Linked DNA regions of Homo sapiens: all the other regions are reported to be linked to region 2. Evidence: microRNA targets listed by miRTarBase, many of them from high-throughput screens and not tested one by one. Region 2 holds a microRNA gene; each other region holds the end of a gene's coding sequence.

Evidence for each region. The annotated mature microRNA hsa-miR-4766-5p reads UCUGAAAGAGCAGUUGGUGUU and lies in region 2 at 2,815-2,835, shown strand. An mRNA with a match to its seed (bases 2 to 7 or 8) in the 3' UTR can be bound and repressed. Matches are read on the target gene's strand: a 7mer-m8 pairs with bases 2 to 8, a 7mer-A1 pairs with bases 2 to 7 and ends in A, and an 8mer does both.
Region 1: the mRNA of SLC39A14 is a reported target of hsa-miR-4766-5p. Seed matches in the 3' UTR shown: 7mer-m8 at 3,490-3,496 and 7mer-m8 at 2,304-2,310.
Region 3: miRTarBase lists ZNF680 as a target of hsa-miR-4766-5p. Seed matches in the 3' UTR shown: 7mer-A1 at 4,139-4,145.
Region 4: the mRNA of TXLNG is a reported target of hsa-miR-4766-5p. Seed matches in the 3' UTR shown: 8mer at 2,518-2,525 and 8mer at 2,945-2,952.
Region 5: miRTarBase lists ANKRD11 as a target of hsa-miR-4766-5p. Seed matches in the 3' UTR shown: 7mer-m8 at 1,391-1,397.

What each region holds. Positions count from the first base shown.
Region 1 is chr8:22,418,802-22,423,933 of GRCh38, reverse strand. It overlaps SLC39A14 (solute carrier family 39 member 14), which reads right to left. Exons shown (of 9, transcript NM_001128431.4): 9 at 1,198-4,382. The coding sequence ends at 4,236. Among named protein-coding and RNA genes, the nearest start is that of PPP3CC, 20 kb to the left of the region's middle.
Region 2 is chr22:40,811,630-40,816,761 of GRCh38, reverse strand. It overlaps MIR4766 (microRNA 4766), which reads left to right and starts at 2,804; the gene lies at 2,804-2,879. The region is part of intron 1 of SLC25A17 (solute carrier family 25 member 17); the gene reads left to right.
Region 3 is chr7:64,516,700-64,521,831 of GRCh38, forward strand. It overlaps ZNF680 (zinc finger protein 680), which reads right to left. Exons shown (of 4, transcript NM_178558.5): 4 at 3,179-5,132. The coding sequence ends at 4,462. Among named protein-coding and RNA genes, the nearest start is that of ZNF680, 44 kb to the right of the region's middle.
Region 4 is chrX:16,841,342-16,846,341 of GRCh38, forward strand. It overlaps TXLNG (taxilin gamma), which reads left to right. Exons shown (of 10, transcript NM_018360.3): 10 at 87-3,178. The coding sequence ends at 425. RBBP7 (RB binding protein 7, chromatin remodeling factor) reads right to left here. Exons shown (of 12, transcript NM_002893.4): 11 at 4,487-4,597; 12 at 3,000-3,762. The coding sequence ends at 3,694. Among named protein-coding and RNA genes, the nearest start is that of RBBP7, 27 kb to the right of the region's middle.
Region 5 is chr16:89,263,941-89,269,059 of GRCh38, reverse strand. It overlaps ANKRD11 (ankyrin repeat domain containing 11), which reads left to right. Exons shown (of 13, transcript NM_013275.6): 13 at 397-1,430. The coding sequence ends at 582. Among named protein-coding and RNA genes, the nearest start is that of ZNF778, 49 kb to the right of the region's middle.

The DNA of each region.
Region 1 (5,132 bases), not on the chromosome of region 2:
CTCAAAAGGTTAAGGCAGGAAGATTGCTTGAGCCTGGGAGTTCAAGCTCACTCTCTCTCTCTAGATAGATATAAAACTTTATCTGTAGATAACAGTTATCTATCTACATAGGAAGATAGATGAGAGAGAGAGAGAGAGAGAGAGAGAAACCAATTAAAGTGAGTATAGGCCAGGCGCGGTGGCTCATGCCTGTAATCCCAGCATTTTGGGAGGCCGAGGCAGGCTAATCACCTGAGGTCAGGAGTTCTGAGACCAGCCTGGCCAACATGGCGCAACCCCATCTCTATTAAAAATTCAAAAATCATGGCCAGTGGCTCACGCCTGTAATCCCAGCACTTTGGGAGGCCGAGGCAGGGGGATCACGAGGTCAGGAGATCGAGACCATCCTGGCTAACACGGTGAAACCCTGTCTCTACTAAAAATACAAAAAATTAGCTGGGCGTGGTGGCGGGCACCTGTAGTCCCAGCTACTCGGGAGGCTGAAGCAGGAGAATGGCGTGAACCCGGGAAGCGGAGTTTGCAGTGAGCCGAGATCGTGCCATTGCACTCCAGCCTGGGCAATAGAGTGAGATTCCGTCTCAAAAAAAAAAAAACAAAACAACAACAACAACAAAATTCAAAAATTAGCTGGGCATGGTACTACATGCCTGTAGTCCAAGCTACTTAGGAAGCTGAGGCATGAGAATCGCTTGAACCCAGGAAGCGGAGGCTGCAGTGAACCGAGATCGTGCCAATGCATTCCAGCCTGGGTGACAGAGTGAGACTGTCTCAAAGAAAGAAAAGAGAAGAGAGTACAAAAGTTTCCTTCTTGGCCTGGCACAATGACTCAAGCCTGTAATCCCAAGACTTTGGGAGGCCAAGGCGGGCAGATCACCTGAGGTCAGGAGTTCGAGACCAGCCTGGACAACATGGCGAAACCCCATCTCTACTAAAAATACAAAATTTAGCCAGGCGTGGTGGCGGGCACCTGTAATCCCAGCTACTCGGGAGGCTGAGGCAGGAGAATCGCTTGAACCCAGGAGGTGGAGGTTGCAGTGAGCCGAGATCGCACCACTGCACTCCAGCCTGGGCGACAAGAGCAAAACTCTGTCTCAATAACAACAACAAAAAAAACCTTCTAAAATCCCAGTCAAATGTTAAACCAGACCTGGTAAAACAAAACTTTGTACGTCAGTGAGACACCATCGCCACCTTGTGTTCAACAGCCTTCATTACATCCACATTTATTGCAAATGATCACCCGTGGGATTCTCAACAATTACAGAATATAGCTTTATTTATAGAATCTTACAAATAAAACATTTACAGTCCACATAAGTTAATTTTCTTTTCTAATTTCTTCTCATACACCTGAGTTATTTAAAAAAATACTGTGATGGAACTGCAGAACTGTAAAGGGAAATAAGAACAATAAAATCCTAACCTCTCTTGCAAAAATCAGACAACTTTGTTTTAAAGTAGATGCCCAGCATATTGCCATCTCTTTGGAAGAGGACTTACTATACTCAGCTCTTACGCTACCCAAACAGAGAAGCCTTCTTTTTAAAACCCAAGGTTAAGGACCAGTGAAGAATAGCTCCAATTTGACACTAGACACAAAATACCTTTGGGGGCAAAGACAGGGGCAAGCTGTGTGCCGGTGGTGAAGTGAGAAGGAGCAGAACCCCTGTCCCTGCCTCACTGTTCCTGCACGTGACATACACTTTCCTTGCTAACTTATTAATAGGAGCTGGTGCATCTGGAAAATGAGGTCGAAGCTGCTAATGCCAGGGGTGAAAAAGTCCTCCCACTGACTTGCTACTCCTTAGACTTCTAATATGTACAAATGCTTGAAACAGCAAATTCAACAACTAAAAATCAAAAGAAATTGCCAATTTTTGACTCATGAGGCAAAGCTGTTGCCACAATCAGTGGCGACTCAAGTCAGACGATGTGAGCGTCTCCGCCCCTCCTAAGCTCCGACTAGGACTGACCTCTGCGCCAACTACGGTTTAAAGAGGATTTCCCTTTGAGGCAGCTGTCTATGGAAGGAAATTTCTTAAGGTAATATAGGTGTGCACAAAAAGGGAAAACACCCTATTTCATTTTTCAATTTGTTAAAGATTATAGTTTTGAGCTCCTCTCCTAAACTAGAAATCCACTAACTCTAACTTAGTATTCTACTCCAAGACAAAGGGTATTATGTTTAAGGAATGATAGGATCTATTGGGAATGCTAAAATTATAAATTTAATACATCAATGCGAGTTAGGTTAAAGCAAAATCTTCCAGAGTCTTCAACTTTGAGTTATTTTCTGCTAGCTCCTGAAAGCAGCTTGAGAAAAATAAAACAGAAAAGACAAAGAACCGTTTAAAAACAACAATAATAATGACAATATAAAAAGTTAGATTCCAACATTCAAGGAATTGGTTCTTTGGTAAAACTGGACCATAATCCCACCAGGAAATCAGTCCTGATATTTAATCTAGAATCTCCATCACTGAAATTTTCCCTCTTCAGCGTATTCTCAAATGTATTGAAGCCAACAGGCAAGATAAAAACAAAACTTAAAAAAAGTATCACCAGCAGTTTTTCCTGCTCACGTTCTTTTCAAGAATATTCCTGGTTTGACAGATGTCTCCCAAGAAGAGAAAACAAAACGGATGCTGCTTGTGATTACTGAGAGCGGACAGTTTTTCTATGTAAGAGAAAAGCTCAGGCATTGGTAGTGAACCAGTACTCCTGTCAGCCATGCACATGAATCAGTTTGCAAACATGGCCCCTGGGCTCCAACTGTGGGCACCACTAAGAAAGGCTTCTGGAGAGACAGGCTCCCCAAAGTGGCTAAAGAATCTCACATTATCAATATGATAATAATAAATCAATTCACCTAGTGAACCTGGAGAAGAGCTCCCCTTGAAGCCAGAGCTCGGAGGCAAGGGCTCCACAGTGGCTAAGGCTGGCCTACAGTTTTAAAGACAAGTTATCTCCATCCATTTTCTGGAGAGAGTTAGAGAAATTCATATTCAATTCAATGCAGGATTCGACTTTTTTTGCAAGGAAGCAGTAACCTAGACGGGTCATTTAAAACCCATCTGTAGCATAATCATTAGGCCAACCATTCTGCAAACATCTGCGATGCCCTAAGTGAAGTTTGTGCCCTTACATTTCAGAGACCCCCTATTAGTCATGCTTTGATTTATGGAAGCGGCAAATCCTAAATTTTGCCTGCACTGATTCCATTTCTGATTACCCTTGTCTAAGTAGAGCATAAATGGCACCCCATTTCTACAAGTCAGCTTGCCACTCTGCAGACGTCTCAACCTGGGGGAGGATAGTTTGTGCAGTCTCCCCTCTAACACAGAGGTCTCAAATGTGCTCAGAATGTGCTTCTAGGAGGCAGCTACAAAGTCTCTTAGAAGATGGCAGTGGGGAAGAGGAGGTCAAAATCACAGCCAAACCAACTGTTTTCTTGCAGACAGCCTGAGCCTCCATTCTGTCAGCGTTAACCTGAAAGAGGAGGTCCAGGCAGCCACACCGCCACGTTAGCTCACTCGGACAGCCGTGAAACACCAGGTGCTGTTACAAAATCAATATCCAGCATCTCAGTAGGAACAAGTGAGCATCCTGACAAGACACACAGCAGTGGTTCGACTTCCTCTCCCATTCAGGATGAACCTTGCCTCACCTCTCACCCTGCTCATGTGTTCTGACTTCAGGTTCTCTTTGAGAGAAGTAATAGGCAATTAAACAGACTTTGAAAAAATGGGAAGGCTTCCTGTCTCCTGTCTCTTCTATTGGCCAGCTGGAGGTCCAAGGTGCCCAGCTAGAGTCATGGGCCCCACACTATGGATTCAACTCTTGATATTTCTAGCCAAGTTATAACCATTGGCTCTATTTTTGCATTGTTGGGTAAAGGATTCAAAACCTTTCAGCACTGGTTCCAAGAGGAGGCCAAGGTAATCAGAGAAAAAAGTCAGGCTTGTCTTGTAAGCTGCATTCAGGTTCCAGAGTCACTGAGAGAAAAGGAGGTGAGGAGAGGGCAAGAGGCACTAGCTAGAGACTGGTTACCAGGGCAGCTTATTCCTAGGATACAGCATTTTACAAACGGCTGACATTTGAATGCAGGAATACAGTCTGTGTCAGTTTTTCATAGAACGGCCTCTTCCGTGGTGCATTGTGGATGGTAAGTCCTCGGGCTGGCGATCGGGCAGCCCAGGGCCCGACTTCCAGTCCCACAGGCTCTTGGCAGAGCCCTACCCAATCTGGATCTGTCCTGAATACATGGTGAGGACCACCATGATGGTGAATCCAGTCAGGAGGCCCAGGTTCTGGATGATAAATGGAATCAAGATGCTGCCCTTCCTTTCATCCTCTTGACAGACCTCATTCATCTCAGGGAACTGGGAAAGAAGCAAGAAACAACACAGCTGCAATTCCTTCTTCATCTTGTAAGTCCAGGGCAATTCAGTGATGGAGATATAGATCAGGTTGGTTGACAAAGAAAATTATCAGGGCCAGGTGCAGCGGCTCACTAGAGGTCAGGAGTTCGAGACCAGCCTGACCAACATGGTGAAACCCTGTCTCTACTAAAAACATAAAAATTAGCTGGGCGTGGTGGCGCAGGCCTGTAGTCCCAGCTACTTGGGAGGCTGAGGCAGGAGAATTGCTTGAACCCGGAAGGCAAGGCTGCAGTGAATGGAGATCACACCACTGCACTCCCGCCTGGGCAACAGAGCGAGACTCCATCTCCAAAACAAAACAAAACAAAAAAAGAAAATTAACAATAGCAGGTACCATGTCTTTACAACTGTCTAGGTAAAACAAAGTACTCAACGTGTATGTGGCTCTGGATGAGTTTAGAGGCTGGCTAAAAATAAATGTACTCTGATAAAAAATAAACTTTATATTATAGACTTTTTTTTTTCCTTTTTTCCACTCGCTCTTGCCCAGGCTCGAGTGCAGTGGTGCGAACATAGCTCACTGCAGCCTCAAACTCCTGGGCTCGAGCAATTGTCCCACTTCAGCCTCCTGAGTAGCTCCACAGGTGCCTGCCACCATGCCTGGCCTTATTATGGACTTTAAACACTTTAAGAGGTCTTTTTGTTATCAAGATATTATTAACAAGCTAGATGCAGTGGCTCACACCTATA
Region 2 (5,132 bases):
GTGGGCGCCTGTAATCCCAGCTACTCGGGAGGCTGAAGCAGGAGAATCACTTGAACCTGGGAGGCAGAGGTTGCAGTGAGCCAAAATTGTGCCATTGCACTCCAGCCTGGGTGACAAGAGCAAGACTCCGTCTCAAGAAAAAAAAAAAAAAACAATAAAAAATAAATGAATAAATAAAAAATAAGTAGAATAATTTTAGATACAGTTAAGTGCTATAAAAGAACATAGAGATTGGCAAACTTTTTAAAGAGAGCAGATGGGAAATATTTTAGGCTTTGTGTACCGTTGTCACAGCTACCCAACATTGCCATGGTCGTGTGAAATCAGCTGTAGACAGTAAATGAATGGACAGAGCTGTGTTCCAATAAAATACTGTTTTCAAAAACAGATATTAGATTGGATTTGGCCCATAGGCCATAGTTTTCTGACTCCTGCTATAGAGAGAGTGACTGGCAATAGTGGTAATATATTTCTATTTAATCTACAAAGATACTTCTTTTTTTCACTTGTTGCCTATTTTTCTCTTTTTTTCTTTTTCTTTCTTTCTTTCTTTTTTTTTTTTTGAGATGGAGTTTCGCTCTTGTTGCCCAGGCTGGAGTGCATGGAGTGCAGTGATGCAATCTCGGCCCACCACAACCTCCGCCTCCTGGGTTCAAGCGATTCTCCTGCCTCAGCCTCTCGCCGAGTGGCTGGGTTTACAGGCATGTGCCACCACGCCTGGCTAATTTTGTATTTTCAGTAGAGACGGGGTTTCTCCATGTTGGTCAGCCTGGTCTTGAGCTCCCGCCCTCAGGTGATCCGCCTGCCTTGGCCTCCCAAAGTGCTGGGATTACAGGCGTGAGCCACTGCGCCTGGCCTGGAATTACTTTTCTAACTTTGTTTATGCCTGAATCAAAAACGATTAATGAAATTATATCGTCATACATAGTATTGTATAACTTAATTTTTTAAGAAGCAAATATGGCATAATAGCTGAAAAAAAAGGTTCTGTAGTAAAGCTTAACTATGAATGCCATCATCAATCGAACTATAAAACAGGGACAATAACAATGCCTCACTTAACTGGGTTCTTGTGGGAAGTAAATGTGATTATATTTGTGGAGCATCTAGCATAATGGAACGTTGTAGTAAGACCATAATTATTCATTTCTGTCTCAAGTATATTCTTGCAAATACAGCACTTATACCTAGTTTTAGAAATTTAAGGGAATTGAAATGTTCTCTTGCCTCATGGCCATCTCCACCCATTCCCTTCACTTGTTGCAGATGATCTTACCTTTTACTCTCTAGATAAAATAGAACCTACTTGGGATGAGTTTTTTCAGTTTTTTCCAATTACAGTTGTACTCGTGTTTTCTACATTCTGCTGGTCTCAGAGGAAAAATAGACATATTCAGTGTCTGCTACCTTCAATCTTTGTCCTCCCCTCCAGCCCATGGCCAGTTTTCTTCCAGGACTTTGCTCCAGTAATTTTCATCTCTTTCCTATAGCTTTAACCTAGTATCTGCTTCTGTTCAGCCCTCAAACATGGTCAGGTCTGTCCCATCAGAAAACTATACCAATCTGATCTGGAATCTGGTAGCTTCTTCAGCCTCTGCCTGTTCTCTTTCCCTTTGTGCTAAGCTTATTTAAAGAATATTCTGGGCCGGGTGTGGTGGCTCACACCTGTAATCCCAGCACTTTGGGAGGCTGAGGCGGGCAGATCACGAGGTCAGGAGATCGAGACCATCCTGACTAACACGGTGAAACCCCATCTCTACTAAAAATACAAAATATTAGCCGGGCATGGAGGCAGGCGCCTGTAGTCCCAGCTACTCGGGAGGCTGAGGCAGGAGAACGGCATGAACCCGGGAGGTGGAGCTTGCAGTGAGCCAAGATTGCGCCACTGCACTCCAGCCTGGACGACAGAGCAAGACTCCGTCTCAAAAACAAAAAAAACCAAAACAAAACAAAACAACAACAACAACAACAATATATATATATATATATATATATATATATATATATTCTGCACGTACTGCCTTTCCTCATCCTACTTTGACCACTGGAACTGTTCTTCCAAAGGTCAACTCTGACTTCCTAACAGCTTAATCTACTATTGTGAATGGTTTAAGGTCATGGATAACCAGGTACACACACATTTGTGTCTTTTCACAATGTCAGACTTTTATTGTGTTATTTCAGTTATAAAAGACAAGTTACATGGAGTTCTCAAGGAGGCAATTTTTATTAGTACTTCTCATTCACTAGGTAGTCAGTCAATATTGTAAATCATATATAATAGTATACCTAATTAATACATAAATGATGTAGATTAAACATTCTGCAACAAAGTAACATTGAACATCAAGAGAAAAGGGTGAGGAAAAAGGGTTACCTAACCAGTCCGGGGAGAGTGATATAGACAAGTATCCTGGTTTCATCATGGCAGTGTGTTGGTCTTGTAAGAAAGAATCCTTGATGTGGGCAGAGCCTTTGGACACAGATATCAGGCTTTTATAACAAGTGACAGCAAGACAGTGTCTGTTAAGACCATTTTGAGTTTTTTAAGTCCTGTTCTTTTTATGGTCACAGAGTCTTCTGGTAAGGACTGATAGTGGAAGAGCATGCTTGGTTGTGTCTTTATCTGGAAAAACATCTGGTCCCTGTTGTCAAAGTGCTTTTTGAAATGAAAGATAGGAGTCTTTTTCTAAGATGGAGTTACTTATGTCAAGAGTGCTCTATACATCTACTGACTGTTTTTGCATTCTTAATTGATTCCAGTTCTTTGTAAGTATTCTATACTGTTGACCCTTCTACCTTTCTGAAGCTCCTTCTGAAAGAGCAGTTGGTGTTTATTTTTTACTAAATAGCAATTGCTCTTTTGGAAGGAACTTGAGAAGACATTACTCCTTTTAGGGCCCTAAAATTAACAGTGGTTTCTACTACTAACAGATACTATAGCTATAAAGGACATGTAGAAACCAACAATTGTTGAGTGCCACCTGTGTGCCTGGTATGATGCTAGGTGCCAACCATAATTTTTTGTTTTTGTTTTTGAAACTCAGTCTCGCTCTGTCGCCCAGGCTGGAGTGCAGTGGCGTGATCTCGGCTCACTGCAAGCTCCGCCTCCTGGGTTCACGCCATTCTCCTGCCTCAGCCTTCCGAGTAGCTGGGACTACAGGTGTCTGCCACCACACCCGGCTAATCTTTTTGTATTTTTAATAGAGAGGGTATTTTTTTTTTATACAGAGTCTCGCTCTGTCACCCAGGCTGGAGTGCGGTGGCACGATCTCGGCTTACTGCAACCTCTGCCTCCCAGGTTCAAGTGATTCTCCTGCCACATCCTCCAGAGTACCTGGGACTACAGGTGTGTGCCACCACTCCTGGCTCATTTTTGTATTTTTAGTAGAGATGAGGTCTCACCGTGTTGGCCAGGCTGGTCTCGAACTCCTGACCTCAAGTGATCCACCCACCTCAGCCTCCCAAAGTGCTGGGATTGCAGGTGTGAGCCACCATGCCCAGCTACTTTCCATAATTTGATTCTAACTTCTCATAGCAACCTTGACAAATACCGGTCTCAAAATTACAAATGAGGAAATTGAGACATAGAGATTTGAAGTTACTTATGTAATATATACTATACTTGGGACGTAAACCTATATTTTATCCCTAAACACTCGAGAGTGTCATCCATGAGGCCATTTGTGTAACTTGCCTATCTGTCTGTGTATGTATGAGTTAGCTTGATTGTTATGTCAGGGAAAAGACTTACATTAACTCTGATGAGGTGAATAACATTTTTAAATATGAAAGCCATTGTAAGTGGCTTTTAATCTTTAGAATTTTATTAGCTCAAACCACAGAAAACATCTTAGGTGGTTTTTAAAAATTTTTTTAAATTTTTATTTGTTTTGAGACTAAGTCTCACTGTGTTTCCCAGGCTGGAGTGCTGTGGGATGATCACAGCTCACTGCAGCCTCAATCTCCTGAGCTCAAGCCATTCTCCCACCTCCTAAAGTGCTGGGATTGCAGGTGTGAGCCACCGTGTCTGGCTTTAAAATAATCTTTCTGTTCTATAATGCAGTGTTCTAAATCAGGAGAGGCTATACATTGATTTCAGTGGTGCTGCTGTGACTCAGCCACGTCGGGACCCCTCTGGAAACTGATTTTGGACTAGCATTGTCTTTTTTACCCCCACCACTAGTTTTCACCCTGCTAGGATGAATCAACATTTTAGAAACAGTCAGTCACATTTGGTGATTTGGTTGGTATACCAACCCAAACATCATTGTTTTATGCTTAAAAGGCATGAAAATATGCTTCTGTATTTATGTATGTTCTTATCTATTATTCCCATAAGATTGCACACGCTGGGGGGACCAAGTCTTGACCAGATTTACCCAGTGTTTCATTCTTACTCTATCTGTAAGCCCAACTTCATATGTGGATTGTGTTGACCAAATTAAAAAGTATACTTTAGATATTTACAGGAGAGATATAGCCCAGAATGAATAAACCATCTTTTTTTTTTAGTAAGTAGCCTGAAATGTAGATGATGATGCATTCTTAAGAAATCCAGGTGCCAGGCTGGGCGTGGTGGCTCACGCCTGTAATCATAGCACTTTGAGAGGCTGAGGCAGGCAAAACACTTGAGGCCAGGAGTTTGAGACCAGCCTGGGCAATGTAGTGAGACCTCATCTCTAAAAATAAATAAGTTAAAAAGAAAGAGAGAGAGAGAGAGAGAGAAAGAAAAAGAGAAAAAGAAAGAAATCCAGGTGTCAGTTCAGAATTGTTCACAAAAAAGAGGAACCCCCAAATCCCCAAGAACTTAGGCTAAAAATCGTTTATGTGACTGATACAGTTTGGATGTTTGACCCCTCCAAATCTCAGTTTGGATGTTTGACCCCTCCAAATCTCATGTTGAAATGTGACCCCCAGTGTTGGAGGTGAGGCCTAGTGGGAGGTGTTTGGGTCATGGGGGCAGATCCCTCATAAATGGCTTGGTGCCATCCCCTTGGTGATGAGTGAGTTCTCACTGTTAGTTCATGGGAGAGCTGGTTATTTAAAAGAGCCTGGTACCCACGCCTCTCTCTCTTACTCCCTCTCTTACCATGTGACATACCTGTTCCCCTTTCACCTTCCACCATGAT
Region 3 (5,132 bases), not on the chromosome of region 2:
GACAGAACATATGATAGGCCAAAAAACAAGTCTCAATAAATTTAAGAAAATTGAAATGATATCAAGTACTTTCTCTGACCACAGTGGAATAAAATTGAAAGTTAACAACAAAAACCTTTAAAACCATTCAAATACATGGAAATTAAATAAACTGCTTCTGAATGATCATTGGGTCAGCAATAAAATCAAGACAAAAAATATTTAAAAATTTTAATGGAATGATATAGTGACAAAACCTATCAAAACCTCTGAGATACAGCAAAGGCCGTGCTAAGAGGAAAGTCCATAGCTTTAAATGTCTACATCAAAAAGTCTGAAAGAGCACAATATACTAAGGTCACACCTCAAGGAACTAGAGAAACAAGAACAAACCAAACCCAAACCCAGCAGAAGAAAGGAAACAACCTAGCTCAGTGCAGAACTAAATAAGATTAAAAAGAAAAAAAGACAAATGAAACATAAACCTGGTTTTTTAAAGGATAAATAACATTGATGGACCATTAGCAAGATTAAGAAAAAAAGAGAGAATATTCAATTAAGCTTAATTAGAAACAAAACAGGAAATATTACAACTGACATCACAGAAATACAAAAGATCATTCAAGGCTACTATGAACACCTTTACACACATAAACACAAAAATCTAGAGGAGATAAATTAATTCCTGCAAATGTACAACCCTCCTAGCTTAAATCGGGAAAAATCAGAAACCCTGAACAGACCAATAACAAGCAGTGAGATTAAAATCGTAATTTAAAAAATTAACAACAAAAGAAGTCCAAGACCAGACAGACTCACAGCAGAATTCTACCCAACATTAAAAGGAAAATTGGTACCAATCCTATTGACACTATTCCACACGACACGGTAAGAGGGAACCTCCATAATTCATTGTATGAAGCCAGCATCACCCTAATACCAAAACCAGAAAAGGACATAGCCAAAAAAGAAGACTACAGACTGACCTAATGAACACAGAGGCTAAAATCCTTTAAAAAAAAAAATCTAACTGAATCCAACAACATATCAAAAAGGTAATCCACTATGATCAAGTGGGTTTTGTATCAGGGATGCAGGGATGATTTAACATATACAAGTCAATAAATGTGATACACCAATAAACAGAATTATGAACAATGATCATCTCAATAAACACAGAAAAAGCATTTGACACAATCCGGCATTCCTTTATAATTAAAACCCTCAGCAAAATCTGCATACAAAGGACATATCTCAATGTAATAAAAGCCATCTATGTCAAACACACAGCCTACATAACACTGAACAGGGTAAAGTTGAAAGCATTCTCTCTGAAAACAGGAACAACACCAGGATGTGTACTTTCACCATTTTTATTTAACATAGCACTGAAGTCCTAGCCAGAGCACTCAAATAGGAGAAAGAAATAAAGGGCATCCAAAGAGGAATTTAAGCTGTCACTATTTGTTGATGATATGATTGTATACCTAAAGAACCATAAAGACTCCTCCAAAAATCTCCCAGAACTGACAAGTGAATTCAGCAAAATTTCTAGATACAAAATTTATGTACACAAATCAGTCACTCTGCTATACACCAACAGTGACTGGGTTGAGAATTAAATCAAGAATGCAACTTTTTTTTACAATAGCTGGAAAAAAAATACTTAAAAATATACCTAAACAATGACATGAAAGACCTCTACAAGGAAAACCACAAAACACTGCTAAAAGAAATCACGGACGACACAAACGAATGGAAACACATCCCATACTCATGGATTGGTAGAATCACTATTGTGAAAATGACTACATTGCCAAAAGCAATCTAGAAATACAATGTAGCTCCCATCAAAATAGCAACATCATTCTTCACAGAATGAGAAAAGACAATCCTAAAGTTTACATAACTTTATACTATAAAGCCATAGTCACAAAAACAGCATGGTACTGATATAAAAATAGGCATATAGACCAATGGAACAGAATAGAGAACCCAGAAATAAAACCAAATACTTACAGCCAACAGATTTTTGACAAAGCAAACAAAAACATGAAGTGGGGAAAGGAAACCCTATTGAACAAATAATGGAGGGATGTTTAGCAAGCCACATGTAGAAGAATAAAACTGGAAACTCATCTCACAACTTATACAAAAATAAACTCAAGATAGACATAAGACATAAATCTAAGACCTAAAACAGTAAAAATTCTAGAAGATAACATTGGAAAAACGTTTCTAGACATTTGCTTAGGCAAAGACTTCATGAATAAGAACCCAAAAGTAAATGCAACGAAAACAAATATAAACAGATGGGGCTTAATTAAACTACAAAGCTTCTGCAGAGCAAAAATAATCAGCAGAGTTAACAGACAACCCACAGAGTGAGATAAAATATTCACAATCTATACATCTGTCAAAGGACTAAGATCCAGAATCTACAAAAAACTCATATAAACCAGCAAGAAATAAAAACAATCTCATTTAAAAGTAGGCTAAGGATATGAATAGACAATTCTCAAAAGAAGATATACGAATGGCCAAGAAACATATGGAAACTTGCTCAACATCTCTAATTATCAGAGTAATGCAAATGAAAATCACAATATGATACCACCTCACTCCTGCAAGAATGGCCATAATTAAAAAATAAAAAAATATAGTGTTGGTGGGGATGTGGTGCAAAGGGAACAATTTTACACTTCTGGTGTGAATGTAAATTAGCACCATTATGAAAAATAGTGTGGAGATTTTTTTAAAGAACTAAAAGTTGATCTATCATTTGATCTAGCAATCCCACTACTGGGTATCTATCCAGAGGAAAAAAAGGCATTATATGAAAAAAGATACTTGCACACACGTTTATAGTCTATGTGCCTATTTGTATACCAGCACCATGCTGTTTCGATGACTAAAGCTTTATAGTATAGTTTAAAGTCAGGTAATGTGATGCCTCCAGATTTGTTCTTTTCTCTTACTCTTGCTTTTGCTATGTGGAATCTAAAAGAAAATTTTATTATTTTTGATCACATCAGTTAATCTGGAGGACAGCATATTAGTTGAAATAAGCCAGGCACAGAAAGATTAACATCTCATGACCAAATAACATATTGTTACTCTCTTTTACCTCCCTCCTTGAGTAAAGTGAAAAAGGTTAAAGTTAATGGCATAATAACGCTTCATTGAATGCACAATAGTCTTAACATGTTAAAGAAATGTTTAATTATAAAATTAAGCTTATACATAATCTAAAAATTTTCAAATGTACTGCATTTATAGCATAAAAGTACAATTAGTAAAATGATTCACTAGTAATTTAATTACATTTAATTTAAAGTAAAATTAAAAATGCTTTTCTCTATGATGCAGAATATTACTCCAAACACCTACCTCATGCATCACTCAATATGAAAAGTAAACTAACAGGGCCTCTCCACTTAGATTTTCATCATAAACCTTACATTTTAATGCCCATACTCTTCCACAGAAAAAACCATAAATAATGCCCATCTAATAAAAAAGAATCTCTCCTATATCTGACACAGCAACAATTTATCACATGCTTTCACATGTGAATACAATAGGAATGAAATAAAGTAATTTGAGAGTTGAATTTCATCATTATTTACTTTTCAAATAAGCCATAATTTTTTCAAGAAAAAAAGTATACTTTCAATGTAATTATAACTCTCCAAAGAATCTTCTACTCCTTTTAAAGTTATTTACAAATAATCTAACAACTTATAGATTTTTTTATACTCAACACTCTGTTTTAGTGTAATGTCTAAAGTGTCAGTGCCTTAGTTATTTCTACTGTAAATTATTTAATATTTACATAGACTCAATTTTGGATTAAATATTTTTCATACTTACTGCATCTGCAAAAACACATTTCAATATAAATTCATGTTTTCTACGCCGTAGTTTTTGAAAAAAAATGTTTTTCCAAATTCATTACATTTGCAGGATTTTTCTCCAATATAAATTCCCTGATGTTGAACAAAGTTTGAGCAACTGCTTCAGTGTTTTTCTCTAGTACAAAATGCGTACAATAAGATTTGTAATACAAGTAAAGGTACTACAACCCTCCTATGCTCCTTATATTTGTTATGTTTGTCTTCAAAATAAACACGCTTCTTCACTTTAAAGTGTTATGTTTTCTGAAATTTCTTTTGACAGTAATTGCATTTATAATGCTTTTAATAAGTATAAACTCTGGTGTTGAGTAAGATGTGAAAAGATATCAATGACTTTTTCACATTCTTTATACTTGTACAATCTTTCTCAAGTAAAAATGCTTTCCTGTGCAATAAGATGTGAGTATTGGTTAAGTTTTGTCACATTCTTTACACTTATAAAGTTTTCTCCAATATAAATTATCTTACCTACAAGCAAGTGTAACAATCATTGGAAGGCTTTGTCAAATTCTTCACATTTTTAGGGTTTCTCAACAGGATGGTGTCTTTTATGTTTAGAAAAGTTTTAGGTGTTATCAAAATTATTGTCACATTTTTCAGGTTTGTAGAGTTTCTCACCAGTATGAATTTTCTTATGTCTAGTAAGGTGTGAGGACCGGTTAAAAGCTTTGCCACATTCTTCACATTTGTAGGGTTTCTCTCTAGCATGAATTCTCTTATGATTAGCAAGAGTTGCAGGCCAGTTAAAAACATTGCCACATTCATCACATTTGTAGGATTTCTCTCCAGTATGAATTACTTTATGGTTAGTAAGGGTTGAAAATAAAGTAAAGCCTTTGCCACATTCTTCACATTTGTAGGTATTCTCTCTAGTGTGAATTCTCTTATGTCGAGTAAGGCTGGAGCACCCATTAAAAGCTTTGCCACATTCTTCACATTTGTAGGGTTTCTCTCCAGTATGAATTCTCATATGTTCAGTAAGGTTTGAGGACTGTATAAAAGCTTTGCCGCATTCTTCACATTTGTAGGATTTCTCTCCAGTATGAATTTTCTTATGTCTAGTAAGGTTTGCAAACTGGTTAAAAGCTTTGCCACATTCTTCACATTTGTAGGGTTTCTCTCCAGTATGAATTTTCTTATGTTTAGTAAGGTTTGAAAACTGGTTAAAGTCTTTGCCACATTCTTCACATTTGAAGGGTTTCTCTCCAGTATGAATTCTCTTATGGTTAGTAAGGG
Region 4 (5,000 bases), not on the chromosome of region 2:
GTGTCCAATATGGCTGAGCTGGCTTAATTTTTTTGTAACCTGATTGATATTTAACAGGGTTACAGAAATCCTCTTTTTTCTTACAGAAAACAGTCCGTGATAAAGAGTACAAGGCCCTTCAAATAAAACTGGAACGGTTAGAGAAGCTGTGCAGGGCTCTTCAGACAGAAAGGAATGAGCTCAATGAGAAGGTGGAAGTCCTGAAAGAGCAGGTATCCATCAAAGCGGCCATCAAAGCGGCGAACAGGGATTTAGCAACACCTGTGATGCAGCCCTGTACTGCCCTGGATTCTCACAAGGAGCTGAACACTTCCTCGAAAAGAGCCCTGGGAGCGCACCTGGAGGCTGAGCCCAAGAGTCAGAGAAGCGCTGTGCAAAAGCCCCCGTCCACAGGCTCTGCTCCGGCCATCGAGTCGGTTGACTAAGATGAGGTGTGATCACTGTATTGAGAGATATATTTTGTGTATAACTTTCTCTGTTAGTAGTTAACTATTGGTTTTGTGGTGAAAATTTTCTTACTTTTTCTACCATATCTGTATTTTCTTAGAACTACTGGACTTATGTGGTACAGGAGGCTGCTTAGCAGTTTTGAATAGTTTAATCTATAAATTTTCCTCAGCTGTGTTGCACATCAGCCTCGTTCTCCCTCCACTGGAATGCATGTGTTCATTGCCTTGTCCTTTCTCTCCCTGCTCCTTGCACATTATCATCCTAATGAAAATTTCACTGACAGGGCCGACCATTACAAGGGAACTTTGTTCTGACGATGGTTCCTTGATGTGAAAACAATATTAATTTAAACGTCTTAGCCCCCCCCCCCATAATATTATTCAGAAAAACAAAATACCAAGGCGATTAGTTTTGTCTAATAACCCATTTAAATGCCAAGTAAAAATAAAACTCCTAGTGTTGGGTCAGAAGCATATTTGATTGAAATTAGCTTTTTGAAAACATTTATATCTCGGGACAAATTGAGATGGCCACATGCCTAGAATCCTAAGTTTCGGCAGAATATGTATATAAAGATGTCACTTGTGGACAAAATAGTACATAGAGGCAAATCACTAGACAAATAAGCTTAGTGTTTACGTGACTGAACAGTCATCCTGCTTTGGTTTCAGGTGTGGGATTTGGACCATGAGGGGCTCCCGTAGAGGATGGCGGTTTGTGTTTGATTCTGATTTGGGATTTCAGTACATATTCTCCACTTCCCATAGAAGGCCACTTATTCTTTGAAAACTGGTGTTCATGTTTGCCGTTCAATGAAGTCCCTTGTCAAAGACAAGGACGGTCAATTCACGTGTCACTTTCACTAGGCAGAAGTTTCTCCAATACCTTCTGGCTACTTGAAAGTTACTACAAAAATTCCACCAGCAAAGTACTCCAGGTTTTTCAAAAGGGAATTTTCATTATGGATCAGTACCAACCGAAATTGATTTTCATTTCCAAAACAAACACTGGCACCAACATTTTTACTTTGGGAAGACTTGGCAGAGTGTTAGTCATGATCTGTTACTTACGTGTTCAGTCTGTTTTCTCACCCCCTTCTTAGTTACCATCTCTTTTTTAAGAAGAAAAAAGAAAAGCCACAGTATTATCAAGGTCTCTACACTTGGACTGGGGGAAAATTTGAAATTAAGCACATAACTTTTGAATTAGTTCTTTGTTTCAATGTTGAATGTGGCGCAGTTATGCAGATGATTAATCAGGCTGCACTGATGGAAGTTTTGACTTTGTCCCTGGTATAATTTGCATTGAAATGCTTTATGAAATAAAAGGTTCTACTAGAACTGATGTTAGCACATTCCACTGAGCAAAACTATCAGACTGACACTTGTTAAATTGCTTACTGGACTGAATAAACTCTGTTTTGTCCAGTTAAAAGGGTTTTCTCTTTGTTACAAGTGTTATTTGTAAAGTCCTGTCACATTCATGGTCGAAACTGGGTTGAAAGAATTGAAAATTGTCCAACAGATAGATAGATAGGAAACCGCCTGGAGTGGAGGAGGGTTGTATCTAAGCCTCCACTATCAGTCATGTTAATTCAAGGGGCCACAGTGGAGGAAAATAAATCCACAAAGTAGATTATCTAATTACCATCAAAATGAGTCAGAAGCAAAAAACACCACCCTCCAACAGCCTCTTAGGAGTACACCCTGTTCTGCTACTAAAATACTAGACTCATTTCCCTGGTGGTGGGGGGGAATGCAGGTATAGATCAGAAATATAATCCACCTTAAAATTAGTACTAATGATCACATTATTTCACAAGAACTCTGCTGGATGTACAGCTCTTAACATTTTATTAAGCCATTTGTGTAGCCCACCACGTTTCTTTGTGGTGCTTGTCCTGTGTGGAAGATTGTAAATCTTGGGCCTGTTGCATACTTCCAAGGGCTTTAAAGCAATGTGATTAACAGTACTTGGCCTGCTGCTTTTGGCTTACTTTGTATTTTTAGCTAGATGCTATTATAGTGTTGAAAGGATATGGATTCTGTCTGGGATGCATTTGTTGTCCTTTCAGAACCCTTCCTCCCATTACCCTGTGAATAAAAACAAATGGGACCCCCTGAGAAGGACATCTTCCTACAGTGATCACCTCACCAGCCCAGTGTTGTGGCTTTGTAGCGCACCCCGTATCTACCATATTCTAGAACACTGTAATGCTACTAGGCTGGCCCAGAAAAGGTTTAAATGTTGAATTCACTTAAATTGCAATTGTTGCACCATCATGGAATCGTGATGTGTATTATTTATATTGGCGGTGGACTCCAAGGTGTAGAGAAAACTTGGGTCTTGGGTAATATGGACCATTTCATCCTCAGACTTGTTAGGAGTACATTTCTTGGTCTTGAGACCAGTATTTTTCAGTTATGTATGCAACTGCCTTTATTACACCTGGTTATCACAATTCAATTCTCAGGTGTTGCAGAAAAATCTACCTCTTTCAGACTGTAGATGGAAATAACTGTGAAAAAAATGATGCAGATATCTTCTAGTTTGTGCTAAACACACTGCTTTATTTTTACAGCCCACGTCTTTCATGAGGATACGAATTGTTAAGAGGCAGTCTCGTTTTGCTTTTCAAAGACATTTTGTAGAGATTTTTCACTAATGTGAATCTGATTTTATCTACTTGATTCTGTATAGATTAAGTAAATATGTATGATAAACTTAACAGCTTCTGTGTATTCTTTCATTATCCATGTGACCTTAACTGTAGGAGTCCAAAGGTACCATTTTACCCATTTCTACTCAAAAAGTAGACTCCCCCGCCCCCCCCCACTAAGCTTTTAAAAAAACACAAGTTTTATTTTAAAACTTTATTTCTGCAAAGCCAATCAAGAAGTGTTGGAAGGAAAAAGTGTAAAAGTTATTCTTGCATATTTGGGAACAGCAAGCACTTAGTTTGAGAAAATGAGGACTTAAAACAGTTGAATCAAAGGCAATACCCTGCTACTTGTATTTAAAATCAATGGTGATGTTCTTTCTTAAGCAACATTCTTCTCTTCCCTAATAGCTACAATATGATACAGTACGCAACAGCTCACTTGAAAGTGCTAGAATCAGAGGATAAAGAAGCCATAAGCCACCCCACTTACATTTCCTACTATACAATGCCTTTTTGGCGCTTGATAAATCAAGCATTCATGTAGCATTACATTCAACAGAAACATTTCTCGTACTTTGGGTTTAAGATCCTTGTCCCTCCAGTTCGGATGTCGTGACATCTGACTCTTCATCATTGTAAATATTTTCAGCCTGGAGATAACCAAATAAATTCACAGGTAAAAACTCCCTATGGTTTTCACATGGTCATGTAAAAACAATTTAATCTATTTAGAACTTAATAGTTTCATTTTTACATTTCTCTCTTAAAAACTTCAATAAGGAAATGGTAGGCTAGCCAGTATTTTGAAAAATTCTTTGCCAGTGTGTAATTCCGTATGTATACTTAGCCACCCATCGATGCACTACTTATTTCAATCACTGTTCATAAGAGATGTTTTCCAAAGGCACTTCAAGCATCGTTTAGAGGAAGTGGTAGCCCAGATGTTATGGAAGTCTCGGTTAACAACAACTTAGAAATGTCAGCTACTTAGTGCTCATCCTCAGAGAACTTGCTGTCATTTGAATGCCTTGACCTCTCCTTCCTGTATCCCTCATGCCTACCACACAGAACAGACACTGGAGACAGAGTAGCGACGCCAAGACTCCAGTGTATGAAGAGCACAACAACAATGAAAATCAGTGCAGATGCAGAGATTTCTCCTGACCTGACAGGTGCTACAAATAGCAAACAGTGGACGAAGCACCATATGGGACTAAAGATTGTATTGTTGAAATGGAAAAAGTTCTTTTAAACGGTTTCTGTAAATGTTTGGCATAATATGCACCTACATATTCGAAATAACTTTATTACATTATGTAAGTAGTAAATCTCTCCTTTACAAGACAGTCATTCAAGAAAAACATTTTAACTCACCATTTGCCATATCTGCATGATGTTATCCTCAGACACTGAGCAAATGACCCAAGGCTCATTGGGGTTCCAGCTAAAATCTGAAATCTTAGCAGTGTGTCCTCCATGAATAAACTGTTACAAGAACAAAAAAAGCTTTGATTTCATATACTCTCCTGTTAATCCTAACAAAGGTTTTACTAAGTTTTTAGAGCTATCAGTATTTCAACTGGGGGTGGGTGCTGTCTGGTTTTAGAAGGTGGTACAGGCTCAGTAATCTATTTATACTTATTTTGCAAATTTCCAAACCTCCAGAATAGGTGACAGAATATAGTACAATGGATACCTGTATACCCTTTACCTAGATTCACCAAGTGATACTAGCATAACTGATGCTTTATCCATGAGCCTATACAATGAAATGGCTGAAGACTTCAGCCTGCATCCCTTAAGAATGAGGACATTTTCCTAGTCAAAATGCCATTTCCATACTGATTATGATGAACATTAATCCAGCATCATTTGCTCATATACAGTT
Region 5 (5,119 bases), not on the chromosome of region 2:
ATAGTTTCTACTAGAAATACAAGTGAAACTATCACTGGCCGTAAGTAATTGTAAAATGACAAAAGCAAAGCTGTTCGATTCTAATAAGCTGCAGTGGCTGCTGGAGGTGAGTCCCAGGCCCACCCAGAGCAGGGCAGGGCCCCCGGGCCAGGGTGAGCCCCAGGCCAGGGTAGAGGTGGCATAGACAGCGGTTATGGGGACAGACATGTAGCACAGCTGGCGCTACCGCCACGTGTAGTAACTAGATGCCAGGAGCGGGTACAGCTGGGCCTGGCCCATACCAGGGTAGGTTCACGGCCGTATCACGCCCTTGGCCCTGCTGGCAGCTGAGGTCGGCAGAGTCTGGGGCTCTCCCTTCACTCCTCCTCCCTCCTCTCCCCGCTGTGTGTCCCGCAGACTTGCCTCCTCATGCGGCAGCAGCACGAGGCCGCGGCCCTGAACGCCGTGCAGAGGATGGAGTGGCAGCTGAAGGTGCAGGAACTGGACCCCGCCGGGCACAAGTCCCTGTGCGTGAACGAGGTGCCCTCCTTCTACGTGCCCATGGTCGACGTCAACGACGACTTTGTATTGTTGCCGGCATGACACCGCGGGACGGCCGCAGGACGCAGGCGAGGGCCGCACGGCTGCCCAGGACTGCTGCTGAGCCCCAGGGGCGGAGGAGGGAGCGCCCTGTCCACCCGGGCGGGGAGAGACCCCGAGAGAGACTGCACTTGGCCACAGCGCCTCCATCCCTTCCAGACTGGTCCAGACGTCGGGGAGGTGAAACACGTCTCTTCTCTACCAGCTGCCGCGGCGGGGGCAAAGCCCCCAGAGCCTCACTGGCCCCGGCGGGATGAGGAGACCATGCCGGGCGCGCACACACGGCAGCTTCTGTTTGAAAACGGCGACCTTCGGGCCCTTTTCTCCAGCAACTGCAGAGGCATTTCAGGAGTTGGAGAACGGAGTACATTTTTAAAATTTTTTGTTCCATTCTGATCAACTAAAGAAAATTAAGGTGTCCACCTCTCACAAACAGTGACCTGCAGGTCGGAGGGGCAGGAGCCCCATCCCAGCCGTGGTTCTGTTGCCGCCGAGCTGCGACGGCCTCAGACTGGGCTTCAGACCTGGTGCGGAGCCAGGCGGAGGGACACAGAGCCAGGACTCCCAGCCGTATTGAAATGGAGTCAAATCCGCGTGGTTTGTATCTTCTTTCCTTTAATCTTGGGCATTTTGTTTCTCTTTCTGAGAACGTAACTTGAAACACTACAGAGCCAATAATCATATAAAAAGTGTATCCGTAAACGCTGTACAGTTTTATATACCTTCACAATGTACTTTTGCTGCCTTCTAGATAATTTATTTTGCAACACATTACTGCACAGTTGTAAATAACTTATGTACTGTAACATCACTTTCAGTTATGTGTAAAGAAATAAATAAATTAATTAAAATGCTCTTTGTACAGTGCGTCCCTCCAGGAGAGGGGCTGTGTGTGGGACTGACACAGTGTCGCCCCTCTCGACGACCTTCTTACTCCCAGGACAGACGTGGTGGCTCACGCCTGTAATCCCAGCACTGTGGGAGGCCGAGGCGGGAGTCTGAGACCAGCCTGCCCAACATGGCAAAATCCCCTCTCTACTAAAAATACCAAAAATTAGCTGGGTGTGGTGGCGCGCGCCTGTAGTCCCAGCTACTCCGGAGGCTGAGGCAGGAGAATCGTTTGAACCCAGGAGGTGGAGGCTGCTGTGAGCTGAGATCACGCCACCCTACTCCACAGCAGACTCTGTCTGAAAAAAAAGAAAACCTTTTTCCTACCAAGTTGTTAGCTTTTAATTTTGAAACAAATTATCTGTTCCCCTCGTCCTCTGCCTTTGCACAGACCGGGAATGCTGTGGAATTACTGCCTCTTGTAGGAGCTGGAGAGAAACAGGAGCATCACTCCCCACGGATCTGAGCACTGCAGCCGTGGCCAGACCCCGTGGCCAGCTGTGCACGCCCCTGAGCTTCAGCTTGTGGCTGGCTGGCTTGTGCCCCTGCCCACAGTTCCCTGGCAGCTGCAGCTGGTGAGGGTCCGCGCTTTGAGAGCCCTGTCCTGGCTGGAAGGCAGCTCAGGCAAGCATGGAGATGCGAGGCCTCTGCTCAGAGGATCTTGGCACAGAGGATGCCTGCCAGGACCCTCCAGCCAGTGTGGCTCCAGGAGACTGTTGGCCCCCGGCGTGACAGGAGGGTGAGCTGATGGAGGCGCCTCACCCTTTTCCTTCTGAGCTGTCTGTCCCCTGTACCTGGGTGCTGGGGAGGGAGTGGCAGCTACAGAAACAACCCCCACAGAAGAGCAGACACTGCCCGTGCATCAGAATCAACAGGGTCCTGGTCACTGGGTCCCCTGCGGAGGAGCCCGACCTGGGAGGGTCCCTGAGCCCTGCCAGGCTGAGCCAGTGGCGGGGGCAGTGGCTTCATTCCCCCAAAGGCTGCTGTGAGCTCCCTCGCCAGCTGGGCCCCTGCGTGGGGTTGGGGGTAGGCGTGGGGCCATGCCCCCTCTCCTGTCTTCGATCTGTGAACAGAACTTTTGTGGATTCCCTCCTGTTCCCTTCAGGGCTGAGCCTGAGCAAAGGCAGGGTTGTCCACCTCATTTACGGGCTTGGGGTGGGGGTGTGGAGAAGCCAGAAGGTTCCAGTCTATTTTTCTGGGTTCGGATTAGCTGTGGTTTGTTTTGGGGGCTTCGTGGGTTTTTGGGGGTTTTTTGCTTGCTTTTGAGATGGAGTCTTGCTCTGACCCCCAGGCTGGATGGAGCACAGTGGCGCAATCTCAGCTCACTGCAGCCTCCACCTCCTGGGTTCAATTCTCCTGCCTCAGCCTCCCGAGTAGCTGGGACTACAGGCGCCTGCCACCACACCCGGCTAGTTTTTGTATTTTTAGTAGAGACGGGGTTTCACCATCTTGGCCAGGCTTTTTGTTTTCTCCACACCCCCTCAATCACAGAACTTTGGTCACAGTAAAACTTCCTTTAAGCCCTGCCTTAAAAGAAAAACCTGAGTCAGCCTGTGTCACACAGAGCACGCTGCAGTTCCAGCCCACAGTGGTGACGACGTCCCGGCCACCATGCTGTGCCTCCCTGTCTCGGGTGCCCACGAGGGGTGTCAGGCGAGAGCAGCTCCCTTCCGGCCCCCACCCTGGTCTGCTGGAGTCTCGGCTCCCGTGCACCTGCCAGAGATGCCGCACATGCGACTCCCAAACAGCCTCCTGCCATAGGGGACGAGAGACAGCCTGCCGCCCCTCAGAGAGACTTGTGAATAAACACTGAGAAACGTCAGAGTACCCAGAACCGCAGGAGCCTGCGTGCCAGCCTGGAGACCCTGCTGCCCGGGGCCACCCATGTGGGCTTCAGACCGCTCTCGGGAGTCTCTGGCTGGAGCTGGAGGAAGATGGCGTAACCCCACTCGCTCAACTACATCCATGGACCCCAGCGCTACCCAGCTCCTGCCTGGGAGCCCGGGCTCTGGAGCAGGCTGGCTCTGAGGGTCCACCACCTGTAACTCAAGCCTTCCTGATGCCTTCCCTTCCGGAGGCTCTGAGGACTGCCATTAGCAAAAAAAAAAACAAAAAACAAACAAACCCAAAGCACAGAGCAGGTGAGTGCTCGGACCCTAGGCACTTCAGGGAAGCCAGCACCCCTCCCTGGCACAGGGTCCCCCTCTCAGGGAAGCTGGCGCCCCTCCCCGACACAGGGTTCCCCCTCAGGGAAGCCGGTGCCCCTCCCCAGCCGAGGGTCCCCCTCTTAGGGAAGCTGGCACCCCTTTCTGGCACAGGGTCCCCCTCTCAGGGAAGCTGACACCTTGCCAAGGCGTAAGGCCCCAGGCTTCAACAGAAAAAGGAAAGAAATATGGCGGCTTTTGCTGCTGTAGAAGAGAAGCTGGTGGCTTTTGTAAAACCTGGAAGGAGGTGAGAGGTTTTTGTGGAAAGCCCGTGAGCCGTCAGCTCCCCGCACAGAGAGCGCCTGCTCTGCCCAGGAGACCGTGCAGCATCTGGCAAGACAGGTCTCCATTCAGGGGTCGCCATTTCCAAGCGGCAGCTGGGCCTGGGCCTGAGCCTGGCAGGAGGGGAAGGGCCCCAGCACGTGGAGCCGCACACAACCTCCACCCACCTCCCCCCACACCAGGGAGCTGCTTTCCTCCTTCCCGCTGGGGGACAGCGAAGACAGTCTCACAGGAGAGTAGAAGGAACTGGGCCCAGCTTGGCTCTGTTGGAAAGCAGAATGAAATACTGAAGCTAGAGAGAGGGACCCACAGGCAGTGAGAAGGCAGCCGTGGCATCAGCAAGAGCTCAGCTGTGGCATCAGCAAGAGCTCAGGGACGAGGTGCAAGTTGTACACCACAGCTGGGGGAGTGCAGTGGTATAAACCCCAAAAGCCCCATTACTGGGCACAGAACGTCACTCACATCTGAAATTACCTGTGATAAACTGGAAACATGGCTCACACCTGTGGTCCCAGCTGCTTGGGAGGCTGCAGCAGGAGGATCACTTGAGTCCAGGAGCTCACGGCGGTAGTGCACCGTGAGTGAGCCTGCGAACAGCCATTGCCTTCCCACCTGGGCAGCTCAGCAAGATCCTGTCTCTAAAACCAAAAATCAGGCTGGGTGTAGTATTTCACACCTATAATCACAACAGGAAGCCAAGGCAGGAGGATGCTTGAGCCCAGGAGTTCATGTCCAGCCTGGACAACATAATGAGACCCTGTCTCAACAACAACAACAAAGAACAGGCATGGTGGAGCGCGTCTGCGGTCCCAGGTACTCGGGAGGCTGAGGCGGGAGGATCGCCTGAGCCCAGGAGGCTGAGGCTGCGGTGAGCTGTGATGGTTGCTCCAGCCTGGGGGACAGAGCAAGACTCTGTCTTCAAAAAAAAAAAAAAAAAAAAGATACCAGCCGGGTGTGGTGGCTCACGCCTGTAATCCCAGCACTTTGGGAGGCTGAGGCAGGTGGATCACGAGGTCAGGAGTTCAAGACCAGCCTGGCCAACATGGAGAAACCCTGTCTGTACTAAAAATATAAAATTAGCTGGGTGTGGTGGCACAAGTCTGTAATGCCAGCTACTCAGGAGGCTGAGGCAGGAGAATCGCTTGAACCCGGGAGGCGGGGAGGGA